2 separate regions of the Homo sapiens genome follow, and region 2 is linked to region 1. Evidence: fine-mapped expression QTL. A gene starts in region 1. The other region holds a variant in brackets. All regions are shown on one strand. Distances are from middle to middle.

What was found.
Region 2: its variant is fine-mapped to the expression of PTGER2 in whole blood (TOPMed, PIP above 0.99).

The regions. Positions count from the first base shown.
Region 1 is chr14:52,310,913-52,319,235 of GRCh38, reverse strand. PTGER2 (prostaglandin E receptor 2) reads right to left here and starts at 4,924. Exons shown (of 2, transcript NM_000956.4): 1 at 3,845-4,924. The coding sequence starts at 4,687. RefSeq lists enhancers at 4,030-4,169, 4,190-4,339, 4,574-5,133, 5,134-5,694 and a silencer at 4,860-4,969.
Region 2 is chr14:52,348,207-52,356,546 of GRCh38, reverse strand. No RefSeq gene overlaps it. Among named protein-coding and RNA genes, the nearest start is that of PTGER2, 38 kb to the right of the region's middle. The variant C/A (reference allele first, on the strand shown) is at 4,730.

The sequences.
Region 1 (8,323 bases):
CTGACATGAAGAAAAAGGTCTTTGCCATTTTATTTTTAAAGCTAACTAGTTGGAATTAAGAGGCAAAGTGGTCCAGATATTTATAACATTCTCACAGCTCTTTTATGAAATCTTAGATTAATCTTCTCATCTGTTACCCCTGAAATGAGTACTTTCTCTTGGATAGTGTTGTGGTTAGGTTAATTGGCTCAGTGCTTAAATTGCCTAGCTTTGAGTCCCAGTTCCACCACCCATTAGCTGTGGGACACAGGGTGAGTCATTTGCCTCGTCTGTACGATAGAAATCATCATACTATTTCCTACGGTGCTGTGAAGATAATGGGTTAATGCAAAAGTTAGCATTCAAAAGTCTGATTTTGTGGTCGATAATAATGACATATGAGGTTGAATTGGACTTCACTTGAAGGGACTGGGCCTTTAAAAAAAACTACAGTTTTACTTCCAAAATTTTGGAAGCCCTAGACTGGCATCTTTGGAGGAAGCAGTAATTCCAACCTGCCCAAACCTTGGGACAATGCCTGACATTAGTAGTTCTAGGTTTCTGAATTCCCCCATTTCCCTCCTCTGTCCACTACTGGAGTGCTGTGGAATAGACTGGTGTCCCACTGGGTACAGCTGTCCTCCTTGTTGCCAGTGGTTTGGTCCACTTTTGAGGGACAAAGAAAGCAGCTTGTTATCCTGAGGAAGGAGTGGGAAGAGATAGAGTAGATTGCTACTATTTTCTGGGATACAAGGAAGAAACTTACTTGGAATAGCTTATTAATAATTATTTTACATAACTAATATTTTGAATTGATAATATTTTAGATATATTGGGTTAAATAAAATATGTAATTCAATTAATTTTCTCTGTTTCTTTTTACTTTTTGTTATATGACTACTAGAACATTTAAAATTCCGTTTGTGGCTTGCATTTGTGGTTCACACTGTATTTCTATCAGATCATGTGCACTCCGTTAGAGAAACAGAAACATTTCTGAAGGCAACCATAAACCTTTGCTTCTAGAGCCCCCTGTTAGGACATGTGGAAATGATTCCTGCTTCAGGTGGGAGATTGGTATAGGCCACTTCTGACCACAATTTTAGTGTGGGCCAAGTAGAATAAAAGGACTTGGAGGAAAAAGCAACCTCCCCTGGAGGCACATGCCAAGGATTCTGAACAGCAGAATGTATGAACCAAACAGTAGCCATGAGCTTGAATTTTCAGATAAGCCCTTCAAGAAATAACTTAAATCAAGATAGTACAGCATTTCATAAAGCTTAAAGTGCTATGTAAGTGAAAGATACTAGCAATTATTCCCAATAATCTATTGACAAAATAAAATCCATCAGTGGTCAATATAAATTTTCTTACTAAGAGGTGACAATGCTTCCAATTTCCATTTTGTGTATAGTTCATCTGAATATGGTGTCATGGTAGCTCCAACAATGGAAGTCAGGGAGGCTGGCTTTCTGATTATGTTCACACTAGGATTTTCTCCGGCTCTTTGGGAATCTTTGCCAGAAGCAAAAGCAGTTTGCTGATAGTGTCAATGCTTAGAGGTGGTTTGGGGGAGCTAAAGCCCCTTCATAGTCTCCATCTGGCTCCCCCTAAGCCATAAACAGGAAATTGAAATAAAAACACAGCTTCAAAGCAAAGCTCCTACTCCCTCAACACCTTTTAGCCAGATTTCTGTGGCTAAGCCCCTTCTATCTGGCAACTCTGGAGCAGCCCTTGGCCTAATATTAACTGAGGGAGGGAAAACAATATCTATATCTATATCCACACACATATATTTGAATTTACAAAAACATAAGGCAACGATGGAATTCTCATGGTAAAAGGCCAATTTACATGAAAACAGGGCAACCTGTTGGAAACCACTACCTTTATTTAAAAAAAATACAGTTTATGCAATGGGTCAGTCATGATCAAAGAGGAGAACTTTTTCCTCTTGCTCGTGTAGGAAAGAGACTAAAAATCGTTTCACAAGTGTGTTATCACCCCAAACCCATTCCCAGGCTATTTAAGTAGCTGATAGTGGGGGATATTTTTATAAATATACTCACAAATGACAGATAAAACCCTAAGAACTGATTATCTTAATTCCCAACACCCTAAGACAGTCTTTCAGGAATAGTTTCTGATCCCCAAGCTGAATGCAAAGCTGTTTGGTGGAACTTGAAATGCTTTCTTTCATAGATATATGTTCTGCATCCTAGTGCTGACCTTCAAAAGCTGATTTAGCTCCTAACATAATCAAAAGCTCCTACCAGTAAAATAAATCAAAAGCATATAAGCCATGTGGGTTTCTACATCACAGCGTTTCTGTTGCATAAACTCCCCTGCTCAGAGTGGTATGGGAGATGCAGCCTCCCACAGTCCGACTTCATTTTATAAGAGGGCGTCTTTGAATATTCTATCTCATTCCCTCAAAGTGTAACCAATTCAGAACAGTTTCTGCCCTGACAGAGGATGGGGTAGAAGGGTGAGGACAGTGGGGACCAGGGAGAAGAGAACGTAGCTAAGGGAGTTAACTGGGCTGGGGAGGAGAGAATCATATTCAGACCTTTGGGACCCTGTGTCCCTTCCCATCCCTGAGGATGAGCACATGAAGATGTAAGAAGCAGTAATGGAGGCAGGAGATAGGATAAAGTTACTTCTCCTCCAGCTTTTACAGGTCAGACCTGTTAATAGTAGGCACTGCCCATCTCTTTTCTCCAAGATTGTGGCAGGTGGAAGTCACTATTAACTGCTTTGATGCTGCAGCATCAGTCTTGCTCTTCTGAAGATTAGGAAGTGGAGTTGCCACAACTCCCAATTCCTAGCCCCCGTAAGAGGCCAGCACATTCTCGGACATATTCCAGGCTCAGCTAAAACGTTACACTTGAGGAGACTTGAACTCACAGCCTCATATCATTTAGCAGTTAGTTAGCATCAAATAACTGCTAAAGTTGCCCCAAATCAAGGCAGCACGATGCCAGGACTTGGTCTCTTGTCCTTCAGTTCCCCAGGTAGCCCCACTCTTCCCTTCCTGAGAGGGACCAGCCATTCCTGCCTGTGGCTTTGTGCTCATCAAGTGCATAACTGTAAGCTGAAGGACACCTGTGTGTATTTCTGACAGTGACATTAAGAGCGTGTTTTGCAAGATATTACAAATGCTTAGCAAGATGTTCCTCCAAGTATTTCCTCTAGTTATCATTATGGTTTTATAAACTTTCATGGCCACAAAGAGTTACATTCAAATATATAAATTGGGAAACCTATAAACTAGATGTTTGTTGGACTTTTAGGACAAATAACAAATGCTCTAAACTTCTGCTTCAGGGACCCTTCTCATCTGGGACCATTTTCAATGGCAGCTGGAATGCTATGGGTTGGGTACTACATTTTGCCCTGGCAGGAACAGAAGGCAAGCATGGAGAACCAGCACCAGTGGATGAGAGGTACAGGGCAGCAAACTGCAGCTCCAGGTCGTCAGGCTGGAACAGTGACAGCCATCCTAAGGTGGAAGGGGCTGCCTCTTTCTCAATTACTAAGCCAAGATAGGCAACAGCGAGAAAGGGACACTGCCCAGGGCTAGGATGAGGAGATTGGCTAGCTTAGCTGAGGCCCAGGACTCCCTTTCGGACGGTCTGTATTATTGTATAAGAAACTCTAGCCTAGCAACGCCCATAAGCCAGGATAAGGAAGTGGGCTAAAGAGGAGGGGAAACTAGTGGGGAAGGCTACAGATCTTTACAAATTAGGACATATTTTTACAAGTTGCAAAAAGTTTGTAGGGCGGTGGAAAGGGTGGAGGCGTCAGGGGAGAGCATGAGAAGGCTGAGCAGAGCCGGGCTGTGGAAACGTAGGGAGTGACTTACCGTGAAAGGCAAGGAGCAGACGGCGAAGGTGATGGTCATGATAGCCAGGAGAATGAGGTGGTCCGTCTCCTCCGCCATGGACACCCTTTCCCCTCTCCTGCGGGCCCCGGGGCCGCCCCGGCCACTGCCCAGGGAAGGTCCGCAGCGGCTTCTCCGGCTTCGGCGGTGCATGCGGATGAGGTTGAGAATGACACTGAAGTTGCAGGCGAGCACCGAGACAATGAGAAGCAGCAGCAGGGTGGCGTACAGCTGCAGGTAAGCGGTCCGCCCGTGCCGGATGAAGCACCAGGTCCCGGGGCAGTACTGGACGTACTGCCCATAGTCCAGCAGCGGCAGCGAGCAGAAGAGCAGGGAGACTGCATAGATGACAGGCAGCACGGCCAGGCCCCCGGAGCGCGAGACGCGGCGCTGGTAGAAGTAGGGGTGCCCGATCGAGAGGTAGCGCTCCAGGGCCATGGCGAAGAGCATGAGCATCGTGGCCAGGCTGAAGAAGGTCATGGCGAAAGCGAAGTAGGTGCACGCGCGGCTCTCGGGCGCCAGTGCCACCAGGGTCTGGTTCCGCGCGTACGAAGCCAGTACCACTGGGCTGATGAGGCAGGTCCCGAGCAGGTCGGTGAACACCAGCTCGGTCACCAGCACGTGGAACAAGGAGAGGGAGCTCCTGCGGCCGGCGCTGCACCCCACGTCCCCCCGCCAGCGGCGCGCCAGCAGCGCCAGTGCTATGAGGTTCCCCAGCACCCCGGCCGAGAACATGACGGAGCTGATGGCTGGGCTTTCGCCTGGGGGAAGCCACTGTCGCGTCTCGCAGTCCTCAGACTGGGAGTCATTGGAGGCATTGCCCATGGTGGGGTGCCTGGAAAAGAGATGCGCCCTCCTCTCCCGGCCTTTACCTGGGAGGAAGAGGGTCTGAGAGCCGGAGCGTTCCGAGACTCAGAGGAAAAAGGGGAGGGACCGAAATCCAGAGCCCCCTTCCCGCACCCAGCGCGCCGACGGCGGCTTGCCCTGGGTCTCCCGCCGCGCGCCGAGTGGCGGCTCGGCTGCTGCATCCGAGCGGCGCTCGAGGCTCCCGCGCCTACCCGCGCCGGCCAAGGCCGGGAGCCAGAGCCTAGGGGAGCCGTCGTCTCCGCCCCCGCACTGTCGGGGGGCGGGCCCAAGAGTGCTGGCCAGGCCTTGCAAGTGCGAGTGTCCGCGAGCTGCAGGGGAGGCAGGACGCGTCACACTCGCGGGGGCGTTCCGAGTCCCTGGGGCGCGCCGGCGGGGAGGGAGAGAAGGAGTCTGAGCACCCGCTGGGCGCGGCACTGGGCAGAGGCGCGCGTGTTGCCGGTGTACTGAAGCTGCCCGCGACCGGCGGGAGCGGCGTTTCTCGCTTCCTCGGGGTCCGGTACTCGAAGCGCACGGCAGTCTGACCTCGGCTGGGAAGCGTTAAGCCCCAGCAGAGGGCTGGGAGGGAGTGCAGGAGCACTTGCGGGGTCTGCGCAGAATACACAGAAGATCGGGGCAACGAGCAAAGCAAAGCAACTCACCAAACAATGAAGTTAGGAGAACCCAATCCCGTGAAATGAGCGGAACAAGGGAATAACAGTGCAAAGGCAGCTTGAAGTAAGACCAGAATGTTTTGCTTTGTTTTTACTATTCCCAGGAAGATACACTAAGAGGTTGGGACAAAAATTGGGATGAAGCGTAAAGCAAGTGTGTCCATCCAAGGAACCAAACCACACAATGCGCACCACCGAGCGGCCTGTTGCACTGCCGCTTTGATTCGGTTACTAGCATTTCACCGTTTCCTATGTCAACAGCATAACGGATAACCACTTGTTTAAGCAACCATTAAAAAAAGAGGAGTGTGTCTTATACAGAATTGTGTTTGTGGATACAACATGAAAACCATTGCACATCACTGTTCTGTCCTTAAGCTGAGCCTTGTAAGAAAATGTTGATATTTTGTTTAGCCGTTTATCTTTACATGTTGTTAACCACGTAGTATCCATCCAGAAAGACTTGTTCCTGGCAAAGTGTATTGGTAAGTGGCCAGTTTCAGACTGGAGCTGACAGTAATGGTTTCCTACCACATATTGTCATAATTGCAGAGTCGTGAAAATGGGCTGATATTTAACACAAAACAAAACAAAACAAAATCCAGTTTGGCAGACAACATAGGTAATTGTGTTCTGTAAGAAGTCACATTCACTTGGGGAAGGGAGGCCAACTGGGAAGTGAAGGGTCTGATCTGCCTAGGGAACTGGCAAGAAAGACAGTCATAACGTGGGAGGAAGCAAAGATTGCCTGCTGAAGAGCCTATCTTGCTACAGCCTGCTTACTCTCCATGAATATTTTTTGCCAACTTTGATGATTCTGGCCTGGGGATTGGAATGCGGAGTTGGGGGGGGTGGTTCCCACTAGAACAAGCATAATTTACTGGATCGCTTGCAAAGTTTACAGGCCGGTTTTCACATGTCAGCAGGCACTACTTCAATCCCTAAACTTCTCATGGCATGGATTCCTAGGAAAGAGGATCTTAACTCCTACAGTTTTTCTTTCAAGCTGTAAACTCTGCAGGTCAGTAACAACTTATTACCAATCTTTGCCATCCATCTCTGACTATTCCCCTACTCCAACATTCCCCCATCTCACCCCAAGCAATGGGGAAACATCAAACTTAAATCAGAAGTATTTCTTAATAGGAAAACACTATGATTTATAGCATAATTCTGCACTGCAGTTTTACTATTAAATAAGGGATTTTAGATTCACTGAATTTGCACAGTGCTTATTTTCCGAATATTTTTATACCTTTTTAATTTTCATAAGGCCCCTCACAACAAAAACCTACTATTTAACCTTTCCTATATATTTGTCTCTAGCTTTTCTTTGGATGGGTACCTGGTGGCAGGCCGGCCCCTGGTTTTTGTGAATACGAGAGCAAGAGTGCAGTTGAAGATCCTCCCCCAGGCCCCTGCCCCCTTGTCTTCCTAACCCCTGACTCAGTCTTGCACCACAAGGAGTCTTGCACAGAAATATGTGGAGAGTATAGTTCAATATGTGGACAGTATAGTTCAATATGTGGACACTATAGTTGTTGATAACCAAGCTCTCTCCCCAAAGCCACCTTGGTCCTGGGAATATGCATCTCAAACATGCAAATGACCCTTGATTGGATGGACCTAGGGAAGATGCCTGATCAAGCCCTGGAAGCGAGTTATGGGACCAACATTTGAGCAGGAAATTTCATGATCTCAGGTACCTGGAAGGTGGTCTAGAATGGAGGGGTAATGGGGTCTGGGTGAATAGTGCCCTGAGGGTGTCTCACCTGTGGTAAGGTATGTGACAAGAGGAAGACTAGAGTGGGCCCTATAAATCTTGGGAGGCCAGTATCCTATTAATTACTGTGCTGCTCAGCATTGCTTGTTCAAATTACTCCTTTTAATTGCTTCCAGCATTTGGACAGAATACATACATATGTGTGTGTGTGTGTGTGTGTGTGTGTGTGTGTGTGTTTGGTTTAGCAGTTTGCTGTGTTCCCTGTTGCTAGATTGCTGAGTAGGAGAGTTGATAAGTTTGCTGTCGCTACGTAGCAACTGGACCATCACGTTTGTTCCTTTAAGTGCAAGTCTAATCTTGCTTGTCAGTTACCCCCAGTTAATTTTGTGGTTTAAAAGCTACTTCTTCCCATTTCTAATTTTAGTGTCAGCATTTTGATACAGTTTCAGTTTACATAGAGCCTAGAGTTCCTTAACAGAAAACAGATTAACACCCTCAATTCTAGAATTGAGCCATAGAGCTTTGCTAATTGTTTAGTTCCTGTTTGTGGGGCCATTGTATGTGGGGAACACTATGTGATGGTTAATTTTATGTGTCGACTTGACTAGGCCATGGGATGCCCAGGTAGCTGGTTAAACATGATGGCGGGGTATGTCTGTGAAAGTGTTTCTGGAGGAGATTAGTGTTTGAGTTGATGGACTGAGTAAAGCACATGCCCTTCTCAGTGTTGGTGGGCTTCATGCAATCCATTAGGGCTTGAATAGACTAAAAAAGTAGGGGAAGGTGAAATTCACTCTCTGCCTCACTGCATGAGTGGGGACATTGATCTCCTGCCGCTGACACTTATGGTTTTCAGGCCTTCAGACCAGGACTGGAATCTACACCACTGGCTCTTCAGCTCCCAGACTTTCAAACTTTGTCACCAGCTTTACTGGGTCTCCAGCTTGTACATGACAGATTGTGGGACTTCTCAGCCTCCACAATTGCATGAGTTGATACTTTATAATAAATATCTTTATGTATATCCATCCTACTGGCTGTTTCTCTGGCAAACCCTGACTAATATACACTTCTTAAAGTCTAAAGTTCATAGTGTTCATTTATGTATCCATGAATTCAAAGGACTGTGGAAGGTGGGTTACTTCCTTTAGGTCATTCTTCAAGAGAAAGCAAAGATAAACATGAAGGAAAGGAGAATTGCTTGGGCAAAAAGCTAACATT
Region 2 (8,340 bases), 37 kb before region 1:
AATTATTCCATTATATGAATGCACCACAATTTATTCAGTCTCCTTTTGGTGGAAATTGTTTTGTTATTTTAAATATGCTATGATGAAAATTCCTAGACATACATGTGCAAGTATTTTTACAGAATAAATTCCTAAAAGAGGAGTTTGGGGGCCAAAGTCTATACACACATTCAAAGTTTTGATAGATAGTGCCTTCAAAGAATTGTAACATTTCCCACTTCAATGAAGGTTGAGTGAGAATGCCTGTTTTCTCACACACTCGCCAATGCTGTGCAGAATCAATGTTTACATAATCTTCATAACTTGATGCTTTGGTTACATTGGCACCAGTCCACCTTTACCCATCCCACTGAGCCTTCATGATGCCAGATGTGAGATGATTGAACAGAAGCACACCTGTTCTGCGCTACCTAGGGACTTGTTTCATGGTATTACGTGGATTTGCCATGCCATTCATGTTTGGCTCAGTGAGACAAGGGTCAGCCAAGACCCTGTCTTAATTTGGGTCCCCTCAGAAACAAACTCTAAAGATTTGGGTACGAGTAATTTGGGGAGGGAAATGATCCCAGGAAATACCAATGGGGAACTGGAGAAGTAAGATGGGAGGGGAAGGCAGCCTTTAAACGGTGTGTTATGGGGTTACTACGTGGGCAGGCAGAGCTCAATCCCCCTGGGGAACCCTGGCATCCAGTGTAGAACCGGCCTCAAAGTTATACCAACCGAGGAGTGAGGAAGTTAGAGTATTTATCTACCAACTACTCATCTTACATTGGACTGAGGATTACTCAGGGTCATGAACCCTGACACTTGTGACTTGACTTGTAGTGTGGCTAACTCCCTGACTAGGAAGAAAGCCATAAAGTGGAGAGCCACAAGGGCTGGGAGTTTCCGATGAGGTGAATGTTGAGGGGATATGGATGGGACACCAACAAAAAAGAGAAAAGAGAACCCATCTGAAAAAATGACCACTCACAAATCTTTGACTTCTGCTGTCTTCCTCACAGTATTACTCTCAAACTGTAGTTTTTCTACAAAAAGCAGAAATCTAGAAATTATTCTAATTACTGGGAGTCTGTTGCTATTTTTTTGTTGTTGGATTTTTTTCTTGCTAGTTTATGTTTCAGATGTGAATAAACGTCCATGAAAAAAATCTGGTAGCATTCCATGTTGAGTCATAAACATGTAGTCAAATTCCAGTTTGTCCTGGGCTGTTAATCTGAGTTTCATTTCTCAATGACTTCCTCCCACAACTCCTTTGCGGTTCAAATAGTCAGCCCTATGGCTCTTTTCTCATCAAGTGTTTGTGTCTTCTGTTCCTGCAGTCTTGAGGGGCTTTGTCTTCCTTTTATTCAGCTGTTGGGAGTGGTTTGTGGATAAGACCTGAGCAGGCTGAGTCCCCCTGAGTTCCATGGCCTCCAAAGCCAGTAGTGTGGAGTAAGACATAACATTGTGTGTATGCAATGGCTGTTGTCCAGTTTAGGGATATCACACATTTGGCTGTATACTTAGTGACTTGCCACTGAATCACAGCCTCCTCCGAAGGTGGACTGAACTTGTAACTTTTGGGCTAGAAAGAGGTGGATAATTAATTATTCTAATCACCATGTCCCCATTAATCAGTTGTGTTTCTTAGATGGGAAACTGGGCTTAAGTGCAGGCTTACAGGTGAAGGAAATTTAAAGAAAGGAAATAAAAGGAAAGGGTCAAATTTTGTGTCTAAGAACTATTTTCTAAGATTGGTTCTTATTAGTATAGATTCCAAGACTTCTCAGCTAACTTGGGAAATGCAGGGAACTGGAAAAGATGGGAGCTGGGTAAGGTGACTGCAAAGAATTACTGGTCCTTTAGGGTTAGAGGGAGATTATTTTAGGATCAGAAATATGTACTTTGGAAATGTGCCTGTTTTTAGAGTTTTGATTTTCCATAATTATTTCTTATGTTCTCTCTTATTTAGTTAAGTTTTAAAATATATCAAGCAAAAACCACTACAAAATGAAAAGCAACACAAGTATATGCATTTATAAGTCTAAAAGAAAATATTAAATGGGTCAAAGGGAACTAGGGAATGGGGCAGGGAGGGGATAGGGAAGAGTGTTCATTTTTGAGTCAGAGCTTCAGTGGGAATCAATATGAGGAAAACCTTAGCAGACTCCCATTCTGGAATGACTTCCTGGGGACTTTTCTTTTTTGCTAAAATCTTGGAAGATCTGTGTTTTACTCATAAGGGAGGCTCTTTTCTGTTATGATGTACTTTGTTTTACTTAGCACATGTAATCCTAAAATTACATTTATAAACTGCTTAGTAAAACTAGAAAAGTTAGATACTTAAATTTCACTACACACACACACACACACACACACACAGTGAGAGAGAGAGAGAAAGAGAGAGAAAGATGGGGTCTCTCCCTGTCACCCAAGCTGGAGTGCAGTGGCACAATCATGGCTCACTGCAGCCTCGACCTCCCAGCTTAATTGATCCTCCCACCTCAGCCTCCCAAGTAGCTAGGACTGTAGGCACACGGCACTATGCCTAGCTAATTTTTATATTTTTTATAGAGACAGAGTTTCACCATGTTGCCTAGTCTGGTCTCGAACTCCTGGGCTGAAGCAATCCTTCTGCCTTGGCTTCCCAAAGTGCTGGCATTACAGGCATGAGCCACTGCGTGTGGCCTCACTTCATATATTATCAAGGCACTTCATAGGTTATTGTTTGTGTAAATCCAAGTTTTGATTTACTAAGTTTGCTAAAGAAGGTGGAAAATAGTTACTCTTAAGTGTCTTTATTATCTAAAAATCTTAGTGATAGATTTTGACTTGTTTGCATCTTACTTTTTTTTCCTGGAATAAATTTGACTTTCTTGGTTTATTAAAAGAAATTCTGGTTTGTATAACTACTTGTCAGGCCATGAAATGTGCAAAACCATGCATCTTATACCTTTTTATTTTTTTATGTGACAGTTGCACTTTTGTTGTCCAGGCTGAAGTGTAATGGCACGATCTTGGCTTACTGCAACCTCCGCCTCCCGGGTTCAAGTGATTCTCCTGCCTTAGCCTCCCGAGTAGCTGGGATTACAGCCATGCGCCACCACACCCGGCTAATTTTTATATTTTTAGTACAGACAGGGTTTCTCCATGTTGGTCAGGCTGGTCTCGAACTCCTGACCTCAGGTGATCCACCCATCTCGGCCTCCCAAAGTGCTGGGATTACAGGCGTGAGCCACCACACCTGACCTTTATACTCTTTTATTTGTGGTTTTGTGGGAAAAGACCTTGACAATAATATTATTAATGTATTAAAAACATTTCCCCAGGATGTTTGATTTTTAAAAATAATTTATAATCTAAAATCTGTAGTGTCTAGCTTTTATATAAAATGTGAGCTACAATGTTAACAACATTGCCAAATGGCTTACTTTAGTCATTCTCTGAAGAGACTTCCTTCTTTGCTCTTTCTACTCTACCTCTCTGCTCAAAAAATCCCAAATAGTAACCTCATTATATGTTATTATGATGATTTATAGGAATGATTTATAATGTGGATTACTCTTTTTCAAAAGGATCTGGAGGGACGGCTTTTTTTGTAGAAGTTTTTGAAAAGAGCCACTTAATAAATAATAAGCAATGTTTGTGTTTTTTGCAAGTGTAGCAGTGGGGTGCAAGGAGAAAAAGAAGAGGACCATTAGAAGATGGGGATGGCTGTTTGTGTGAAGTTCTCATCTCTTGTGTTTTCAAGTCCTGAACGACAGGGATTATGTCTGATGCATGTTTGGTTTCCTTGTGCAATGCTTTGAAGTGTCTCCCTTCCAGGAACACACAATTCAAGAGAAAAGTAAGATAAGTACACAAACAACTATAGTTCTAAACAAATGAGCAATTGCGTTATTTGAAACGTTTTAGAGGCTATTTTAGAAAGAAACGCAGCTGTAGTATTGTCAAGTACACAGAGTAAATTGAATTCACTGCCAAGTATTATTAAATTTTAGTTACTGATGATGGCACAAGTTTTTGTTGAAATGTTAGACTTGTTTTGACCTTCAAATTGTGTTAAAAAGTTTTAACCAGTTTAAATTTGGGTGTATCAACATTTTAGTTTTCTGATAATTAGTTGGTTTGGGGCACACCGCACAGGAAAAGGAAGAACAGAGAGGTTTTACTCAGAATCAGACCACTGTGGTTGTTTTTCTCCCAGGGTGATACGTCTTTAGGGGCATAAAAGGGTTAAGGGAAAAATCGTAAAAGCACCACAGTGCTTACAGTCCCTGAGTTGCTTCACTGAATATAAAACCAAGAAATCTCCTGTTAGCCAATCATTAATCTAGGTGTTGACAGCCCATTCAGTTTACTGACATTTATATAAAGCCCAGAGAGCTGAAGAAAATCAAATCAGGTTTTAAAGCACTGGAAAGAATGACATAGTTAAAATATAAATGTCTTTCTTAAAAGTTGATCATTACTGGAGGGGAAAATATCACATCCCTGAGAGATGAAATGTTTCAGGTCAGTAATTGTACTCTGTGGGTTGTACCTATCTGGAGCTGCATAGAAATGTACTGATGTGGCCCTGAGCATCTCATGGGCCCTCCAGGGCGGAGGATGATGTCCTCCTGGGCCAGACGGCATCAGAGGAGAAAATCCACCCTGGGGGAAGATAAATGTTTTGTAATAAGTGTGAGCAATTGGCTGAAGGGAACAATTACTTTTATCTTTGCTACTGAGCCTCTGGATTCTG[C/A]CAAGTATATTTATGCTCCTTGGCAAAGACTGGATTTTAATTTCTTGGCAAAACACACACAGACATCTCTCTTACAATATCTAGTAAAAGATTCTACTTTGTAAACACTCATTCTACAGGGTTTAGAAGCTAGTGTGGGGGATTAGATCACATGTGCCTCCTTAAATCTTCAGAGAGGAAAGAATTCTTCAGGAAGGGAAAACTTCAAGGCAGTTAAGCAGAGGAGGTCTGCCTGGTGAGTTATTTAGTCTGGCTCCTCTCCTTTTAAGTGCTCTCACTGATTCTGAGAGACAGGTTGAGTTCTTGATGCCGTTTAAAAAACGTAGCCATACCCTCCAGCTCACCCTTCGGCTCCTCATGAATTCTGTGCCATCTTGGGCTTATCTTTGTTTCTAGCTGGTGTGAATGTGACGATGTAATTTCAGCACTATGAAGTCACTGAGAACACTGGAGCTAGCGGTTACTGAGGTTATTAAGTGTCACTCAGGGCAGAATTCCCTATTAAATTGAGCCAAGGATACAGGCATAAGTGAGCTCCTGGCACAGGGCACTAAACAAAACTGACAGAAAGAAAACTTTGGGTTGCTGAAACCAATGGCCTTCTCTTGTGAGCAAATGCTCTGACATGGAAAAATGCTTTGCCTAGTGAGACAGATTGCCTCCTGCCTGTGGCCATGCTACTTAGGAGGAGCCGTATGATGCGATCCTAAGGTCCGTGATCAGTGATTCTGAACAGCAACTGTTTTGTTCAAAGGTTTGTGATCTGGGACCCCAAACAGCAACTGTTTTGTTCAAAGGGAGAGGTGTTATGTAGCAAAATCATCAAGTTGATTTTTTTCCTAAGTGCTATGCATCTAGTGCATGGTAACATGTGGCCTACCTACTCTCAGCTCCTGAGATTACAGACAGGCTCCTGAGGCAAATAGCCCTTAATTAAGGTTCTGGTACTATTAACAAGGATTTAAATGTTCATAGTTTAAGCCCCCTTTTTATAATGAACAAAATGATTCTTTACACCCAGCCATACTAATTCTACAACTTCTAATCCTGAGCAAGGATGGCGAATTTGTGACACATATGAGATAGCTCTCCTTGTTTGGTGCCCTGGCAGACATTCATTCACTCATCATGACATTCCAATAAGTCTTCAGAATTCATGTCAACAGAGCGCTCAGGCAGCTGTTGCCCAAAAGGCTTCTTACAGGAGTATAAGAGTGTGTCATGGCATCCAAGAGCAGAAATGCAGGAATGGCTTGCTACTGGAACTTTTCATTTTATTGGAACCTGTCATCACTGTTCCTCCTTGAGCTTTTAGGGTAGGCAAATAATGACCCCCCGTCCCCCACCACACATAAGGTGTCCTAATTCCTGGAACTTGTAAAATGCTACTTTATATAGCAAAAGGAACCTTGCAATTAAATTAAATATCTTGAGATGGAGAATTTATTTTGGATTATCCAGGTGAGCTCAGTGTAATCACAAGAGTCCTTAGAAGCGGGTAAGAAGGTCAGAGTCAGAGAAGATGTGACCAATGGAAGCAGAGTGGAGTGATGTAGCCATAAGCCAAGGAATTCAGGCAGCCTCAGATGGAAAAAGCAAGGAAATAGAATTTCTCCTATCGCCTCTGAAAGAATGCAAACGGCCAGCCAATTTTAGACTTCTGACTTCCAGCACTGTAAGATCACACATCTGTATGTCTTAAGCCATTAAGTTTGTGGTAATTTGTTACAGCAGCAACAGGAGATTATACAGCACTCATCTCCTTTGTTTCTCTTTACTGAATGGCTTTTTCTGCCCTTTAGTTCACAGAGCAAAACATGGCCTCCCCAGAATGCCCAAGCTTACACATGGCAGGGACTGTCACACACGTAGATTCTGACTCAGCTTTCTCGTCTCCATTTCCAAATACCAAAAAGAGAATGTGCCCAGGACAGCTTGGGTCAGGGGTTTTCCCCTTGGTTGGCCAGCCAAACCCAAGGTGCAAGGCCATACCACATCATGTTTCTTGTTTTGTGTGTGTGTGTGTGTGTGTGTGTGTGTACCCATAAATATTAATATCTTGGTTCTTGTCCTTCAGTATAAAGAATTGCTTTCTAGAGATTTATAGCTAATTGTCCATGTGCTGTTTACATTACTGTTCTTAGTGTGAGATTATATATTTTTCCAAAATCACAATGACCACACTTATTTCTTCATGTGCAAAAACACAGTTTTCTTGATTGGGGAGTTATTAGAATCCTAATATTTTACTTCCATTTTTTTTGTTTGTTTTTCTCATGCCATCTTTTAAGAGCAAAAGATAGGGCATGCATCTTGATTCTTGATTAGATAATGCAGTCCATAATCCATGTAATTATCTGGCGTTGGCACTATTCACAACAGCTGCTAACTAGATACGACCTGTATGCCAAATAAATAGGATAAATTTCCTGCCCACAAGGTTATATTCTAACAAAGGAGGCTGTGTTCTAGAAAATTTTGAATAATGAGATTTGGGAAAGGATTATACATTTTATCGTGTACTCTGCTTAAAAAATAAGTATGCTCTTCTTATGTCAGAACATGCTGTGAAAATAACAGTCACTAATCTTACCAAACAGAAATTCCATCTTAATGCCATATTTACTGACATACAATATTTACAAATTTGCAGTGATTCTTAGGAAAAGAATTCCCTGCTTTATCTCCTGTGATATGGTTCAAAAAACCCAAGAATACTAAGTTAGGCTTCTGCAAGTTAGCCCTGCATTAGAAAGAAGTGTTTATTAGTTAAAAAAGTACCATGTAAATTAAGCATTCCTGTGTGCTGAGCAAGCAGGCAACGTGGACTCATACTTAGAGATCTGAACTGTGGAACCATGGAACTTCTTAGCCAACTTTGTCAGTAAGTTGTCATTTCCGTGTGGCTGTTTAAATGTTTAACACAGAATCTGCAGCCCAGAAAATCAACAGCAGATCATTTGTTAAATGAGTGAGTGGTGGTAACATTTTCCTTTTGGTATTCTTCAGAAAACATGAACTGGTGTCAGGCAAGAGCCTCAAAAGCAAATGGGCTAGGGATCACTTTTTCCCAGTTGTGATTAGAATAGCAAACGTAGTCTAAAAAACATTGATCCAACCTATAATATTATGGCTTATATTTTAGGTTTAAAATATACCTAAACCATTATTTAAGTTTAGGTTTATTTTAAACTTTATAATTTTATTTATTTAAATAAATAAATTTAAGCCAATAAGCACGTAACATGAACCCATGGACTATAAAAAATATTGGATGAATCAGAAGTGGGTAACAGTTTTTGTTCTGAATTTTGTTGCTTGGCAGCAACAGAAAGCAGCCTTAGTCGATTGCAGCGCGCACTGTCCTGAGCAAATGTCCAAGTCTCTGGGCCCTGCCCTATCCAGAGATCCCTGACTAGGGAGTGTCACCAAAGTTGTCATTATGAGGTCTCTTCAAATAAACCCAACTTGGCAACTTTCAATGCAGGAAATATCTGCCATTCTCTCTCTTTTTCTCTCTCTCACACATAAACGTTTAGTCAATTTCCTCACCGTAGCAAAATTTACACATTTATATACTTCATCTTTGCAGACTTGTGTCTTATTTCTCC